2 separate regions of the Homo sapiens genome follow, and region 1 is linked to region 2. Evidence: fine-mapped expression QTL. A gene starts in region 2. The other region holds a variant in brackets. All regions are shown on one strand. Distances are between the middles of the regions. Region 1 overlaps ARMC8 (armadillo repeat containing 8). Region 2 holds the start of ARMC8 (armadillo repeat containing 8).

The links. PIP is the estimated chance that this variant, and not a neighbour inherited with it, causes the effect.
Region 1: its variant is fine-mapped to the expression of ARMC8 in whole blood (INTERVAL, PIP 0.95).

Annotation. Positions count from the first base shown.
Region 1 is chr3:138,283,825-138,292,160 of GRCh38, reverse strand. It overlaps ARMC8 (armadillo repeat containing 8), which reads right to left. Exons shown (of 22, transcript NM_001363941.2): 19 at 7,635-7,730; 20 at 3,041-3,113; 21 at 1,522-1,615. It also overlaps a transcript of NME9 not described here. Among named protein-coding and RNA genes, the nearest start is that of NME9, 42 kb to the left of the region's middle. The variant C/T (reference allele first, on the strand shown) is at 3,965.
Region 2 is chr3:138,182,644-138,190,979 of GRCh38, reverse strand. ARMC8 (armadillo repeat containing 8) reads right to left here and starts at 3,679. Exons shown (of 22, transcript NM_001363941.2): 1 at 3,381-3,679. The coding sequence starts at 3,425.

The sequences.
Region 1 (8,336 bases), 100 kb before region 2:
GAGGCTGAGGCAGGAGAATCACTTGAACTCAGGAGGCAGAGGTTTCAGTGAGCCAAGATCACGCCATTGCACTCCAGCCTGGGCAACAAGAGTGAAACTCCATCTCGAAAGAAAAGAAAAGAAAGAAAAAAAGAAAAAGGAAAAGGAAAAAAGGAATTCAAATCAGATAATGTCTCCTCTCCTTAACAGTCTCCAATGATTTCCTATTAAACTCTGAATAAAAGCCAAAGTCCTTACCTTACCTACAAGGCTCTTCATGGTCTGGATTCTTCCACCTATTAGCATTCTCCCTCTCCATATTTTTCATTAGCCCTCTGTTCTTCTTGCTGTTTCTTGAACATACCAAGTTCACTCCTGCTTCAGGGCCTTTGAACCCACTATCACCCCTGTCTGTAATACTCTTCCTCTATGCATTTGCCCAGATGAAATCTTCCTTATTTCATTCAGGTCTCTGATCATGTCATCCTCAGAGAGATCTTTACTAGCTAACCTAAAATAAATTTTCTTGATTCTCCATTCCTTCACCTTGCTTTATTTTTCTTCATGGTACCTCTCATCACCTGATACTGTGTTACGTATTCATTTGCTTATCATCTATCTTCTATACTAGAATGTAAGTTACACGAGGGCAAAGACTTCATCAATTTTATTCACCATTATATCTCCAGTGCCTAAAACAATGCCTGGCAGAAGGCAGGTATTCAAAAGAGATATCTGATGAATGAATGGGGACTCAGAGGAGAGGAGACTGGGATAGCAAAGTAGATGGAACAGAATGTGTAAATGCACGAAGGTGTGCTACTGTAAGCGGACAGGTATGGCTGCAGTATGGGGTGTACATGGTGGGTGCAGAGAAGATGAGAAAGGCAGAGCCAGACCATTAAGGGCTGAAGGGCTTCTAAGCCATGCTCAAGAGTCTAGAGACTCAAAAGTACTGATGTTCCCTGATTTGTTATTATACAAAGGTGAAATGGAAAGTGAAGGCTGTTACAAGGGAGAACACACAGCTAGGAAGAGCATTTATGGCTATTTTGAGGTTAGCTGAGTATCTGATTATAACTCTTGACTCTACCAGGAAATGATGAGCTCTTTGAGGACAGTGATTCCTTAGTGGTAGCTTTTGTATCCCCAGGAGCTGGGCCAGCCTGGCACAAAACGGGTGTTCAGTGAGGTTTTGAGCTAATGAATGTTTGCATTACTGGTTTTTCTGCTTTCCAAAATGCCACATGCATGTCTATTCTAATGATCAGGCGAATGTACGCAAATGGCCTCTGGATCCAATCCACTAAGATGGCCCAGACTCACGTGAATTCACAATAAGATGAGAGTCTTTAATAATTTGGTAATTATTAGTTTACAGCTCACTCAAATGTCGTACAGTGGCTCATAGAAAATTATGAAGAAAATCTAAGAATCTAAAAGATTTTAAAAAGTATGGCCATTAATTACCAAGCAATTCAAACCCTTTCACGAAAGAATCCAACACAGCCCAAAGCAAGGCCTTTTCACATTCATACTCACTTGTCACAAAGGTTTGAATCTGGTGACTGACTCAGTTTGTGTAGAATATCTACGATGCCCATGTCTCGTAATTTATCCTGGCGTTCTTGTGAACCTAAACGATTAAAGCCAGGTTACTGGGAACATGACCCAGGCAAATGCTCTCTTTGATGTACAATTAACAATCTAGAGCCTTACCAGTGTCCTTCACTCCCTACTCCTCCTGTACCCCTTGTCCTCTACCCTCTCCCAATGTAGTTGGACCCGCTCATGCTTGGACTCTCTGACAGTCTTCTAACTCGTCTCTCTGCCTCCTGATCATCCTGCCTGCAGTCTATCCTGGGTTCTGCAGTTGGACTGATTTCTCCATGGACTACAGGGTCAAGGTGAGATTCTTCAGCCTGGTACAAGGCCCTCTGCCACTGACTCCCAGCTTCACCACTTCTTTCAGGACATACCCATGGCCCTGGCCAGACCAGGCCAGGCTCTTACTACTCTAAGCAGGTCTTATCTTCCCCTTTCTATTGTCTTCTACCCTCCTCTGTCCTCCCAGCACTTTTTGTTGCCTCTCAGCACAGCTGGCACTTCCAATTTCATATCATTCTGTTCTATCTTCCAACTAGACTAACATCTCCTTGAGGGTGGCTTTGTCTCCCCAGTACACAAGTGGTACGTGGTATCTAGGTCTGTGGGCGGAATCCAGTTTCCCTTCTTGCACTTTGTTTTGGGCGCTGCTGCTGAGTAATCCCCTGGAGTCTTCCCCACTGAAGAGCCCACAGTGACCACTCATATACTGGCTCTCTCTAGACTCAGTGAATCAGAATTTCTAGGGATGGGGCCCAGAAATCTGCACTTTAAAAACTTCCCCAGGTGATTCTAATGCAGCCAACCCAGCCTTGAGACCCACTGCTCTCCTGTATTTGCTACCTTGGCTATATATTGGAATCATCTGGGGAGCTTTAAGAACCACTTATGCCTGGAGCCCACCCCGAGAGATTCTGATTTAATTGGCCTGGTGTAAAAATTCCCAGGTGATTCTAATATGCAGCCAAAGTAAAGAACCTCTGATCTATACAGGCCTCCTTACAGACTAGCTGCTTCACTGGTCACATTGCACTTCTCATTTCTCACAAATGCACCTTCTTCTCCATCATGCTTATCTGCCTGTAGTCCTCATATGTGCTTCCTCTGCTCAAAACGAAAGGCTCATCCTCCCACCCACTCTCTCCTCTCACCTTCTTCAAGTGCATCTCACCATCCTCCTCATCAGCTCTCTCCTGGCAGGGACTGTCACTTACTTCTCACTCTCCCTCCTTGAATCTGGTATAGAGTTGGCTCCAACGGGGCACTCAGTGTTGACTGACCAGCTGACTTGGGCTAGTTCCACTGATTCTCATACCAGGGCAACTCTAGAGGGTGCTTGGGCCAGATGGTCCAAGAACAGAGCCTCTGCCCAGGATCTCAGGGGCACCTGCTAGCTTCCCTGTGCAAGACACTCTTCCCATAATTTTTTTCAAAACAAATCTCACCAATCTCTTACCTTCCTCTTCATTCCATATGAGGTTTGATATACAAAACATGGCTGCAAGCTGCAGTTTAACATGTGAATGGCCCTATTAATACAGAAAAAGAAAAAAAAATCAAAATGGTGGTAATCTCATTTTAGATTTTTTTTTGGGGGGACCTACCATAGCCAATTCCTATAACCTAAAAGTCTGAAGCAGGGCCAGGTGAGGTGGCTCATGCCTGTAATCCCAGCACTTTGGGAGACCAAGGCAGGTGGAAGATCGAGGTCAGGTGTTCGAGACTAGGATGATTAACACAGTGAAACCCTGTCTCTACTAAAAATACAAAAATTTGCCGGGTGTAGTGGCGGGCGCCTGTAATCTCAGCTACTAGGGAGGCTGAGGCAGGAGAATCGCCTGAACCTGGGAGGCAGAGGTTGCAGTGAGCTGAGATCGTGCCATTGCACTCAGCCTGGGTGACAGAGCGAGACTCCGTCTCAAAAAAAAAAAAAAAAAAAAAGTCTGAAGAAGAGTCCTCAAACTCAAATGTCTTGAGGGGCCATGAAGTTAACACTAATGAGTAGAAGGGTTGGGCTAAAGATAACAAGGGACAGTGGAGAATCTGGCAAATTGAGGAGTACAAGCCTTGCCAAAAGACATGCAAATTCAAATTTAAAAAACCATCTGGCTGGACAAACAAAACACCTCTAGGGCTATGGGTACAGTTTGCAATTTATGATTCAATCCATGCACGAGGAAACACTGTCATATGACAATTCTATGCTTTCGACTTAGGCTATGTTTCCAGGTCACCAACAGCCAACATACACTGGGTGGATGTGCATTTGGTATTTATCTCTTAAGCTACTGGTTATCTTATTCAAATGGCCCAATAATTCCTTTGGGGAAGAAAGTGAATATATGGTCATGAAGTTCTGTAACACCTAGACTTTCACACA[C/T]ACACAATCTATAAATGGCTTACTCCTCTGACACAACTTGCTGAAAACAAGAAGCATTATATAATACATTCAGCTTCTGGAATAATTAAATTACTCCTATTTCTAAAGGAATATCCCCAAAAACTTGATGAAATCGCTAGTTGATTTCTCAAATGTCTTTACTATCACTAATGAGCCTCCTATTCTTCTAAATACAATTCTTATTTATTTTGCTTTATGTACTGAAAGTACAACCATTTCTGGTTGCTTTGGATAGGGTGTTTTCGCCTGAATGAAAAAGGACTCAATAATAAAATAAACTTTATAGATGATTGTCCTATTGGTCAATAAAAAAAATTTCTAGTATGTTCAAATAATTTATGCACATCTGAGAGAGTATCAATGGCAAAATATGCTCAATGGTTTTTTCAAGGCTAAGACAGACTTATCTTCTCATGTAGGACTATATTTCAACTAAGCAGAGACAAAGAAATGGATGTGGCTTCCTCCAGTAGAATTCTATGGCTAGTGATTCTTTCTTCTTCTAACTGCCAACACTTTTAAGGAGATGTCCAGTTTGGGCTCCCTTAAGACAAAACAGAATAAAACTTATCTGCTCCCAGCCTCAGACAATCAATCAATATTTGTTGAATAAATGAGCTTGTATATACTATAACAAATATGCATTTACTATGCATAAGTTTATTCATCATTCAATATTTTTTAAGGACACAAATTACTATGAGGATAGAGAAAATTGGAGGGTGGAGGGGTGGGAACTTAATTTAGGTGGAATGCACAAAACAGATCTCTTTGAGGGTGGCAATACTTAAACAGAGACTTAAAGAATAGGAAGGTGCCAGATGTGCAAAGAGCAAGGGGCTTGAAATTCCAAGCAGGAGAAAAAGTTCCTGAAAAGGTCTGAAGTAAGAAGGAGCTGTCTGTTCAGAGAAGTAGGTGTAGCCAAATTGTGCCAACTTGTAGGCCACAGTAAGGACTCTGGATTTCATTCTGTGTTGAGAGGAAGCCCCTGAAAGATTTAAACAGTGGAGGGACAAGATCTGATTTACATTTTTAGAAGACCAGTTGGGCTGAAGGGATTGGAGTGACAGTGAGGAAGTGTCAAGGAAGATACTGTTATATAGTTAATCAGGCATAAGGTGCTGTGACTTGGACTGACTAGGGTGGGGGCAGTGGTGATGAAAAGGAGTAATTGGATTCAAGATCAGTTTTGGAAGAAGGGCAGATAGGACTTGTTGATAAATTGAGTGAATGAGGGGACAGAGCTGGAGAAATCAAGATAGATTCCAAGATGCTATCAGACAGCCACATGGAGATGCTGAAAGGGCAGGCGGATATGTAAGTCCAGAGTTTGGAAGAGAGGTCTAGGCTGGGAAACACATTTGGAAATTACAGTGTATTGTCAGCACAGTGATGATAGTATAAGCTATGGGGGTGGATGAGATTCTCCTAAGGCAATGGTTCTCAACTCTGTCTGTACGTAAGAACCACCCAGTGATCTTAAAAAAAAATCCTGATGCCCAGGCTATAACCCTAGATCTATTAAATAAGAATCTTGGGAGGGAGGAGACAAAGCAGTAATCTTTGAAAGCTCCCTACGAGGTCCTATTGTACAATGAAGGTTGTGATCTGCTGATCTCAGGAGAGCACGTGTAGAAGAGAAGAGAAAAGGGTCCAGAGATAGGTAGGGAGGTATGGTGTCACGCAAGCCAAGAGAAAAGGATATTTCCAGGAGGAGGAAATAGTCAGCTGGGTTGAAGTCTGCTGTAAGTGGGGTAAGATGAAAAGAGAAAAGGATCCTTTGGATTTGGCATCATGGAAGTCATTGGTGGCCCTAAGTTTCAGTTGAATGATGGGGGTAGAGGTGAAACAGAGGAGGTTAAAAAATGACTTTAGAGGCAGAGGAGGAGGCCGTATGTACAGAAAAGATGCTTTTAAGAAGTCTGGCTTTGAAGGTTGGGCGCAGTGGCTCATGCCTGTAATCCCAGCACTTTGGGAGGCCGAGACAGGTGGATCATTTGAGATCAGGAGTTTGAGACCAGCCTGGCCAACATGGTGAAACCCCATCTCTTCTAAAAATACAAAAATTAGCCGGGCAATAGTGCCGCGCCTGTAATCCCAGCTACTCAGGAGGCTGAGGCAGGAGAATCGCTTGAACCTACAGGTGGAAGTTGTGGTGAGCCAAGATCGCGTCACTGCACTCTAGTCTGGGTGACAGAGTGAGACCCTGTCTCAAAATAAAAAGAAGTTTGGCTTTGTCTTTGAATAACAGAGAAATGGGTATGTCTCGATGGGTATGAGAAGTTAAGGAAAACTTTTTAAGTGATTATGGATACAGTGTGGATTAGTATTGGAAAGATAAGGGAATCCCTGGTTGAAGTGGTAAGGTTTTCATTCAACAAATATTTACCAAGCATATGCTAAGGGCCAGACACCATGGTGGATATACAGTTGTGCACAAAGCTGACATGGTCCCTGCCCTCATGGAACTTACGCTGTGGTAAAGACACCCAGTAGGCACACAAACATATATCACTAAAACTGAGCTAAGTGCTCTGAAGGAAGTGAACAAAATGCAGTAATGAGGAATAATCTATAAGGGCAAGAGTCCAGTAAGAAAGTATAAGTTCAGCTGAGATTTGAAGGGTGAAACAGAGAGAAGAAAAGTGTTCCAGGCAGAGAAGCCAGTATGTGTGAAGGTCCCAAGGAAGGAAAGAACGTGGCCTTTTTGAGAAACTTCAAGTGGCCAGTGTAGTGAACAAAGGAAGAGAGGAATAAGATAAGTTGGGGATATGAATGGGTTAGGTCACGTAGGACTTGACAGGCCATCATAAAGGCATACGAACTTTATTCAAGGTATAACAAGGAGCCACTGAAGGATTTTAGTTTCTCTTCTCTTAATAAGACAAAAAGCTGAGGTCATCACTAACTGTAATGGGGGAGGGAAGAGGTGAGGTCTAAAGAATGAGGGGCAGGTAAGAATATATTCTCATGGAGAATGAGGGTGCCAGCTTCCTAGAGAATCACTGAAGGACACTAGGAGGAGCTGTGCCCATGTGGGGTTCTGTGCCTTTCTCTGCAGTTGTTAACTCTGACATGGCAGGGATAGAGAAGACAGATAGGTGTGACAAGGGGAGGCTTCCTCCATGATTAGAATTTTGTCAGGAGATGTTGACAGAATGAGAAGTGGAGGGCTTTTTGATACCCACATTTTGGCAATGGGCAGTCTCTGGTGATGATCAGATGCAGGATATGGCCATGGCAGTAGGTAGCAGATTGTTTAGAAGCAAACAGGTAAAGGAACTATGGTGCCAGGGGGCTAGAGGGTTCATCCACCATGGGACTGAAGCCTTGAGACAGAAGACAGGGACTGGAGGCCACTGAGAGAAAGCCAAGAGCCCGGGTCTTCACTCAGTAAGAGGGAGGCAACCAGTAGATGACAAGGGCAGGGAGTCGACTGGCAGGTAATAATATTACCAAGTGGTACAAGCTTCAAGGAGTTGGTGTTTTTTTCTTTTTCTTCAGGATGGAAGAGAGTTCTTTGAATCTGAGGAGTCACAGAGTAATCTATTCTTTTCCTCTTTTTAAAATCTCTGCACAATTTATTTTGAGTTAAAAATGCAACAGTCCCTGCATTCTAATCCTACGGTGAAAGGGGACAAGGGCTCACCATGTAATACTTGATTTTCTGTAGGATATCATCATTGGTCATAATAAGATCTTTTGCTGTTGTCCCATCCGCTATGTTGGCTAAGATGCACAGTGTCTGGAAAAGAACAAAGGGCCAACAGTCAGGAAAGCTCTGAAGTCCCAGAGTCAAGCTGTCTCAAGAGCTTGGGCAATTTTTCACTTGAAGGTACATGGATTCTCACAGGTTCCACTCTCAATGCCCTGATTTCTCATCTGCTGACATCATTGCTAGTAACAGTAACCACACCCAAACAAAATCTACCTTAGGCAAAAGAGAACCCCAACACTTTGGTGGTTTCTTCCTGAGCTATGGGAAGCCATAGCTGGTCAAAGGCAGCTATTTTGTATAGGTCATACTATCAAATCAAAGAGAAAATGTAACTTATTATTTTTCTTGAAAATCTCATTTCTAAGAGAAGCTCTTGTGACAAACCACAATGTTCCTTCAACAATGTAGTCTCTTTGGTGGAAGCTCTGTAGGTGTTGCAACTCCCCTCCCAGGGAAGCCTCCCTTTCCTAGGCCTCCACCTGCTGCTTGCTCCTAAGCTCATGACCTTCTGGGTGAAGGCCTAGACCCTGTCCACCAGCTACACCAGCCATGTGCACTTAGGACCTTTTAACTTTTTTGAACCCTGTTAGGGGAAGAGAAAAGAAGTAAAATGTATGAAGCAACTTAGTCCAG
Region 2 (8,336 bases):
CTAGTTCTTCCTATTGCCCTCCATATTAGATCAGTTTCCTCTATGACATGTTTTGAACAGCACCCTATATACTTCATTCATAATACTAATCACCATTCACAAACTGTGTGATTATTTGATATCTATTTTTCCCACTAGGCTAACATTTCCAAAAGGACAGAGGTCTGTGTAGCTTACGGCTGTATTCCCAAACTCAACACCATGCTTGCCTAGCAAATGGCAGAAGCTCAAAGTAGATGTACAGAATATATATATACAAAGTTAAAATTCATATGTACAAATGAGTAAGAAGAATAAGATTTACTGGAGTTTGGAAGAATTCTGTATCACTCTAACCTGAGAAAGCCGGTTTATACAGGATAGCAGGTTCATGTAGAAGATAAAGAATCTCGGCCGGGTGCAGTGGCTCACACCTGTAATCCCAGCACTTTGGGAGGCCAAGGTGGGTGGATCACTTGAGGTCAGGAGTTTGAGACCAGCCTGGCCAACATGGTGAGACTCTGTCTCTACTAAAAATACAAAAAAATTAGCCAGGCATGGTAGTGGATGCCTGTAATCCCAGCTACTCAGGAGACTGAGGCAGGAGAATCGCTTGAACCCCGGAGGCGGTGGTTGCAGTGAGTCGAGATTGCGCCACTGCACTCCAGTCTGGGCAACAAGAGCAAAACTCCATCTCAAAAAAAAAAAAAAAAAAAAAAGATAAGAAAATAAAGAATCTCAACTCTGAAGCTGAATATAAACTTGGGCCTTTGGGCAAAACAAATTCAATCAAGAAAAGAAACCGAGGAGCGGCTGTAGGAAGAGTTCTTTAGGAAAATTTAAGTAGACATGGACTTGCACTGAGAGTGTAAGACATTAAAGACAGTAAAAATAATTAAAAGGACGCTGTGGTAGTGCAGGCACAAAACAACAAAGTCCTGAATGAGGGTGGTCATGGGAAGAGAAAGATATAAGAAACACTAAGAATAAAGAAGCAACAGAGCTTAACAACTGGTAGATACAGGGGGATGAAAGGAGGAAGAATCAGAGATTATTCAGGAGGTTTAACAGTTACTTATCAGTGAAAGATAACACCATTAACAGAAATTGGGAACTCATAACTAATTCCCCTTAGGAGAAGGAATGTGCTTTATTGGAAGCGATGGGTGTCATCCACACAATTTAAGATGTAAGACTAGATGTAGAAGAAAGTCAAGGTTGGCAATGCAGATGTGTGAACTGATCAGTTAAGGGTACAGGAAAATCAATGAGATTTCCCAAGGAGAAGGTATAAAGAGACTCAAATGGAAATCCTTTAAAACAACTTGAATGCCTCCTTGCTGAAATTATGTTTATCAAATTATAGCGTCACCCAGACTATGAGCTCCTGAAACGCATTTCTGATCTCATCCTTGCATTCTCTAACGTATACAATACAGAGCTTGTACGTAACTGGTACATTGTAGCTTATTAAAGGAATCAACCATTCAAGATAATTTCTGATGAATGTTTCCTGTTCTAGTTTGCATTTCAAAACATGGTGCTCTGGGTAGTACTTTGAAAGGTACAGGTTTCACTTTAAATTAGTAAAATCAGTGAATTGAAACATTTTAAATCATTTATCCAAAAGCTCCTACTTCCCCAAGGCTCTAGGAGTGAAGATCTGATAGACCAGACTTTGGGACTACGGAAATCCTTTTTTTTTAATTAAAGAAAAAAAAAAGCCCCTAATGAGACTAGGGCTAAAGGCAAATCCTAAATAGAAGTATTAATAGAAAATACTCTTCAAGAAGTTTTTGAATAAAATAAGCAGAAAATATTATTTACCAAGGAAGTGAAACAAATGAAAACTTTCAATCATATGCATTATACAAGTTGACAACATCCAAAAAGTAAACTTCAGGTGAACTGAAGGATAAATGAAATCTAAATGAATAATTAAAGGAGAACTGAGAACAGCCAAGACACATACTATTTTTTTTTAACATAATGAGGTAAAAGTCATTGGCCTGCACTCCCACAGAATATTCCTGGGTATTACAGTCAGTGATGGAGTAACAGGCTAATCTGATCTAATACTTAGGTAAACAGTATTTCCTTAGTTGCAGTTTAAAAATAAGAAAAAATGACTGCTAAAATGGATCAGGGGAAAAATCTGTTGACAGCCTCACAAAATTATTATTGTATTGACAACTTAAGCCTTTTCAAGGTTGAGGTCTGCCACACTGCTCTAACCCTGAATCATAAGCAAATGTCCTAGGTGTTTTCAGATAGGTGAGTTTGTTTGTGGGACAAGTCAGAGAAGAGAAAAGAAACCGGTTGTAGTTACAAGACTCTAGGAACCCGACAAGTCATTTATAATCCAACTACCCTCTCAGTATCAGACTGGCTTCCACAAGTCTAAAAGATGGTCAATCAGTATTTGCCTGCTTGTTTCCAACAATAGCAAATGAACCATTGGTAAACTGACCATTCTCAGAGTCGGACAGCTCGAATTTGTTGCAAAATCCTTCGAAGTTATCTCCCAGTAACTTTCATTCCTGGTCCTGGTTCAAGAGCAACATAGTGAAAGGTGAAAGTCGTCTTTTTCTTTAAAAAAACTTTTTTTAAAAAAAAAAAAAACAGGTTTTACTTCCTGGCATGTCAATACGTTCCCTTCTTTCAACAATGGGGAAATAAATCTCACCCCCTTTTCCCCCCTTCAATGTTTGACTCCCCTTAAAGAAAAACGGAATACCAGGCACAGGGAACATAGAGTTCCTCTGACTCAGAGCCGCGACCTCTGAGCAGAGCGGAGGAAAGGGGCTTAAAAAACCACACACACTAGGAAGAGTTGCAGCTGATACGAATCACCATTGCCAAAAAGCAAACTGCTTCAGCCGGTGCCCAGGTGCTGGGACGCGATAGAAGCCGCACAGACTTGGCCTGGCAGCTCTGAGGAAATGGGGGCCAAGGAGCCTGCACCTCTTCTTGCCAAAGCCCGGGAGAGCTGAGTGGGCGCTCGTTCTCAGGCCGGCTGCAAGCCCGGCGCTTCACAAGGCAGAGCGTTCGGCCCCCGGGAAGCGGCATCGCTAAAAGGAAGGCTCAGTGAAACGCTTGGCAAAGTCCAAGCCGCGCCGCCCAGCCAGTTGTCTATAAGCCCAGCCACCCCGCCTGCCAGACGCCATCCTGGGAACCCGCACCGGCGGGAGCTCCCGGAGTTGGAAACGTCTTTGGCTCGGCCGCGGTCCCCTCTGCCCGTCTATCCCGCCTCTCCACCCTCGCTCACTCCCTGGCCCGAGACTGAGCCGGGGTCCACCCCAGGGGGTGGTGCCCAGGAGGCACACCACGCTTGGGGGAATGGTGGAGACCGGGATGAGGCTTCCTGGAGGGCGGGCGGGCGGCCGCGGCGGGTCACTCACCGAAAGGACGCTCATGCGGATTGGGGTCTCCAACAAGCACGCCATCTTGAGCCTTCCCACCCGGCTGCTGCAGGCGCCGGCGCGGGGGCCGGCACTTTCGACAGCCAACTATTGGCCAACGCTAGGCACCGCTCCCTAAAGGCAGCCAGATAGACGAGAACTGGCCACGCTCTGGACACCGCTCAAGTACCGGAAAGGCCCGCAGAAAGAAGGGCAAAAGGGAATGGCGTCAGGGGCTGTCCTACGAATCGTTCTCTCAGAAACAGCAGCTACTCTGAGCCTGGGTTAGAGGTGGAAGCGGGCAGCGGTTTCCGCATGCGCAAAGAAGATCTGCCGGCCCCACCTGCCGCTCGCGGTGGGCGGGGCCCCAGAGGCGGAGTCTCGCCCTGACGCTACGAGTTTTACGGACTGATAAATTGCAGTTTATGGATTCCAGTATTCATATTTGGAAAAAGTAGTACGTGGAGCCACATACATAGTTTGAAGTTCACTTTCATATTCATTCTCTCTCTCTGCACCAAACTCCCGGCGTCGTTATCTCCATTTTATAGGTGGGGAAATTGCGATCCCAGAACCTTTGCCAACCGTAAGAGTGATTGTTTCACGATCCGATACAGATACGTGACTTGCCTTAGCGTTGTGTGCCGGCCCCGTTTATTCTGGTGTAGTGTTAAGAATAGCCAGAATGCTTGGGTTTCTTCCTAGCTACTTGATTTATCAGCTGCTTTACCCTGGGCAAGTTATCTAACCTTCTGTTTGAGTTTCCTCATCTATAAAATAAAGGTTAATGAGGATAGAGGAGTCAACAAACGTGAAGCTCTCAGAAAAAACCTAGAACATAGAAAGCGTTATACAATATGTGTTAACATTTCTCCAGCTTCTGAGTTAAGTGGGGAAAATGGGGGCAAATATCTAAATATTTCGCACTAAAACACTCTCATAACCGAAGCTAAATAAAAGTATGCTTTCAATTATACTTGATTAATTCAGCTGTCCTACTACTTTGTGTGTGTGTGTGTGTGTGTGTGCAACACTGCCCTTGACTTGGTTGGATAAGTTTCACCTTCGTACTGCTTGCAACCAGTAAGGTTTTCACAGTATGGTTGCAATTGGCCTGTTAACATTACTTGTATTCCTTCCATTTCTATAGCCACACCCTAATTCAGGCTCTTGTAACCTCTCCCCTGGACTACAGCAATAGCCTTCCAACTGGTCTTGTAGCTGGTAGCCTCTCCCGCACTCTGCTCCTCACTGTTTTCCTGTCTTCCTCCTGTACTTGGTTTCCAAATTTAGTGTAGCATTTACCACCCCTGCTTATGGGTCTGTGTTCCTTAACAAACTGTTGAATTCCTGGAAGGCAGGAATTTTATTTTAGGTAGTCCTTCTGCTATAATACTATTTCTGAAACTTGGGTAATCTGTACACCACCTACACAATCTTTGCCAATCTGCACCTAGGTATTATTATTCATTCAATATTTTTATTTAAAGCCAATTTCAACTCATTAAAAATTTTTGGCTTTATCCTAAACCATAATACTCTGTGAAATCAAGTTTGTTGTGCTCCTTATTTTTATTCTAGTACACATTAACTACAAAAAGTTTAAATGTCCATCCATGGACCACCTAAAATCACATCATGTACTGCATACTGCAATGGGGCAGAACATAACCCTAATACATAGTATATAGAGTCATTATAACTGTATTTGATCCACACTCCATCCATTAGCTCAAGCAATACATCCTCCAGGAATTGTCTCCCCCAGGCATGGGTTAGATACCCTTTCCCCCATGCCTTCATACTTCACTTTAATTGTAGGGTGGTTTTGTTGTTGTTAATTGTTTCCGTGTTTGTCTCACTATACACTTCAAGACAGGCACTGGGAGTTTTATCTTCTAGGTTGTCTATCTCAGTGCCTAGCACAGTCACTTAGTAAATGTTTGTTGTACGAATTTTTGGCTTAGTTTGAGCCTGGGACGAAGATTTGGGTGCATTTTGTTTATTTAGTAAGTGCTTTCAGGGAACAAAATTGATAGGTCAGGGAGAGTGAAAAAAGAAAGAATAAATATTCAAGATAATTGTCCATTATTGATGCCACTGTTTATTCCTCAATCACCTCTGAAAACATACAGAATACCTCTCTGGATTGTCCATCTTGAAGCTACAGCATTCATCCACCAATACCATATGTATTGGTTGAGGATTTCCCTAGGGCTATTAACTCCCTGCCCTCCTGGATTATATTTGTGCCCAGAACAGAACGGGCTTCTTTAACCTGATACAAAAAAGCAGAGTCTGCAGGTTTCATCTTAGGGTGGGATATAGGCAGCATAAATCTGAGCTTGCACAGAACTGTCACTGCTGCTGTGGCTGAAATCCGAGCGGGGAGGAGCTAGAAATGTGACTCAAGACATCTCACACCTCTGTCTGTTACCCAGGCTTTCCTGTTTTATATCCAGAAGACTGACATAGACATTTTACAGGAAGAAAGCATTGAATAGCCAACTCCTAAGCTTGGAGATCAGGAATCTTGCTCCCAGTTCAAATTTTGCTGATAAATAACTTTAGGTACACTCTTAAGTAATGAGTAGAAATTGGAAGATAAAAGGAATTTTTGATTCAGCCTGCATGTGACGATAACAAAACAGTTAAGCATGGGCGCGGTGGCTCACACCTGTAATCACAACACTTTGGGAGGCTGAGGCTGATGGATCACCTGAGTTCAGGAGTTCAAGACCAGCCTGCCCAATATGGCGAAACCCCATCTCTACTAAAAATACAAAAATTAGCCTTGCATAGTGGCATGCACTTGTAGTTCCAGCTACTCGGGAGGCCGAGACAGGAGAATTGCTTGAACCCGGGAAGTGGAGGTTGCAGAAAAAAACAAAAACAGTTAAATTTGGCACTGTGGTGAGGAGAGGAAAATATCCATGCTGACTACTCTGCAAACAGAAATGAAACTTCTCCCTGTCGTTCCATGGCTCTTAGAGCAGTATTAATTTCTGTAAAAAAAAAAAAAAAGACAACAAAGTGTGAGTTTAATGAAGAAAAAAAATGAAATGCAAAACAAGAAGTAGCCAGAAAAAAATCTGAAAAATCTTTATAAATATCTTTGTGGAACTGCCTAAGATGAGAAACAAAGCCAGAGAGAAATGTATCTATACAAAAATAGGAAAGTTTAAAGTGTGGGGAGATAGGTATAATCCAAAACCTGAATGGTCCCAAAAGAAATTTAGAAGAATCTTTAAAAAGACTTGAAAACGGGCTGGGCACGGTGGCTCACACCTGTAATCCCAGCACTTTGGGAGGCCGAGGTGGGTGGATCACCTGAGGCCGGGAGTTCGAGACCAGCCTGACCAACATGGAGAAATCCCGTCTCTACTAAAAATACAAAAAAATTAGCTGGGCATGGTGGCGGATGCCTGTAATCCCAGCTACTCGGGAGGCTGAGGCAGGAGAATCGCCTGAACCCGGGAGGCGGAGGTTGTGGTGAGCCAAGATCGCGCCATTGCACTCCAGCCTGGGCAACAAGTGCGAAACTCGGTCTCAAAAAAAAAAAAAAAAAAAAAAAGGAAAACAGATGAAATACTTTAAATAAAAAAGAAAATGGACTAACAACAGTATAGAGGAGATACAATGCAGTTCAACAGACACTAACTACAGGTTTTCTTGTGAATGCACTGAACTAGAGTTTTGAAGTGGAACAAAGACATGGTTCTTTCCCTCAGCAGACAGGAATAAAAGTGAGACTGTGAGGCTGGGCGCAGTGGCTCACGCCGGTAATCCCAGCACTTTGGGAGGCCGAGGTGGGTGGATTACCTGAGGTCAGGCATTTGAGACAAGCCTGACCAATATGGTGAAACCCCGTCGATACTAAAAATAGAAAAATTAACTAGGCGTGGTGGCACCTGCCTGCAATCCCAGCTACTCGGGAGGCTGAAACAGGAGAACTGCTTGAACCTGGGAGTGGAAGTTGCAGTAAGCTGAGATCGCACCACTGCACTCCAGCCTGGGTGACAGAGCAAGACACTGTCTCAAACAAAAAACAAAAAAAAAACAATGAGACTGTGAGAGGTTCAATAATTTGCTTAAGGTTGCTTGGGGAGTAAGAGGCTGAATCAATTTTGGTACAGGTTTCTCTGGTTCCAAAGTTCTTTCCAGAGCTCCTACAGTCCTCTGGGACTTAATAGGACTTTCCCAGATGAGACTACCGAATGTTCATCTAAGCAACCAACCTATAAAGGAAAGTCCACAAGGGCTTTTGCGGTGGGAAATAATGCATCAATAATTCATCAGGTCCACAGAGGGTGTGAAATGTATATGCCTGGCCAGGCGCAGTGGCTCATGTCTGTAGTCCCAGCACTTTGGGAGGCGGAGATGGGCTGACTTGAGCTGAGCTCAGGAGTTCAAGACCAGCCTGGGCAACATGGCAAAATCCCTTTGCTACCAAAAAAAAAAAACCAAAGCAAGAATTAGCCAGGCATGGTGCCTTGAGCTTGTGGTCCCAGCTGCTTGGGAGGCCAAGGTGGGAGGATGGCTTGAGCCCAGAAGGCAGGGGTTGCAGTGAGCTGAAATGGTGGCACTGCACTCCAGCCTGGGTGACAGAGTGAAACCATGTCTCAGAATAAAAACTAAAAAGAAAATAAAAGAAATATGTGTATGGCTAAAATAGAAGTAGTGAGATGTTTACAAAGTTTTAAAATTAGAAACCACAGTAAAAAAGAAAATACTCATTTAAAAATTGAATTACTGCTATGGTAGAATTCCAACTTACAAATGTAGAAGAAATGATAGAATTAGAAAATCAGGCTGGGTGCAGTAGCTCACACCTGTAATCTCAGCACTTTGGGAGACCAAGGCGGGTGCACTTGAGACCAGGAGTTTGAGACCAGCCTGGTCAACATGGCAAAAACCTGCCTCTACTAAAAATACAAAAATTAGCTGGGCATGGTG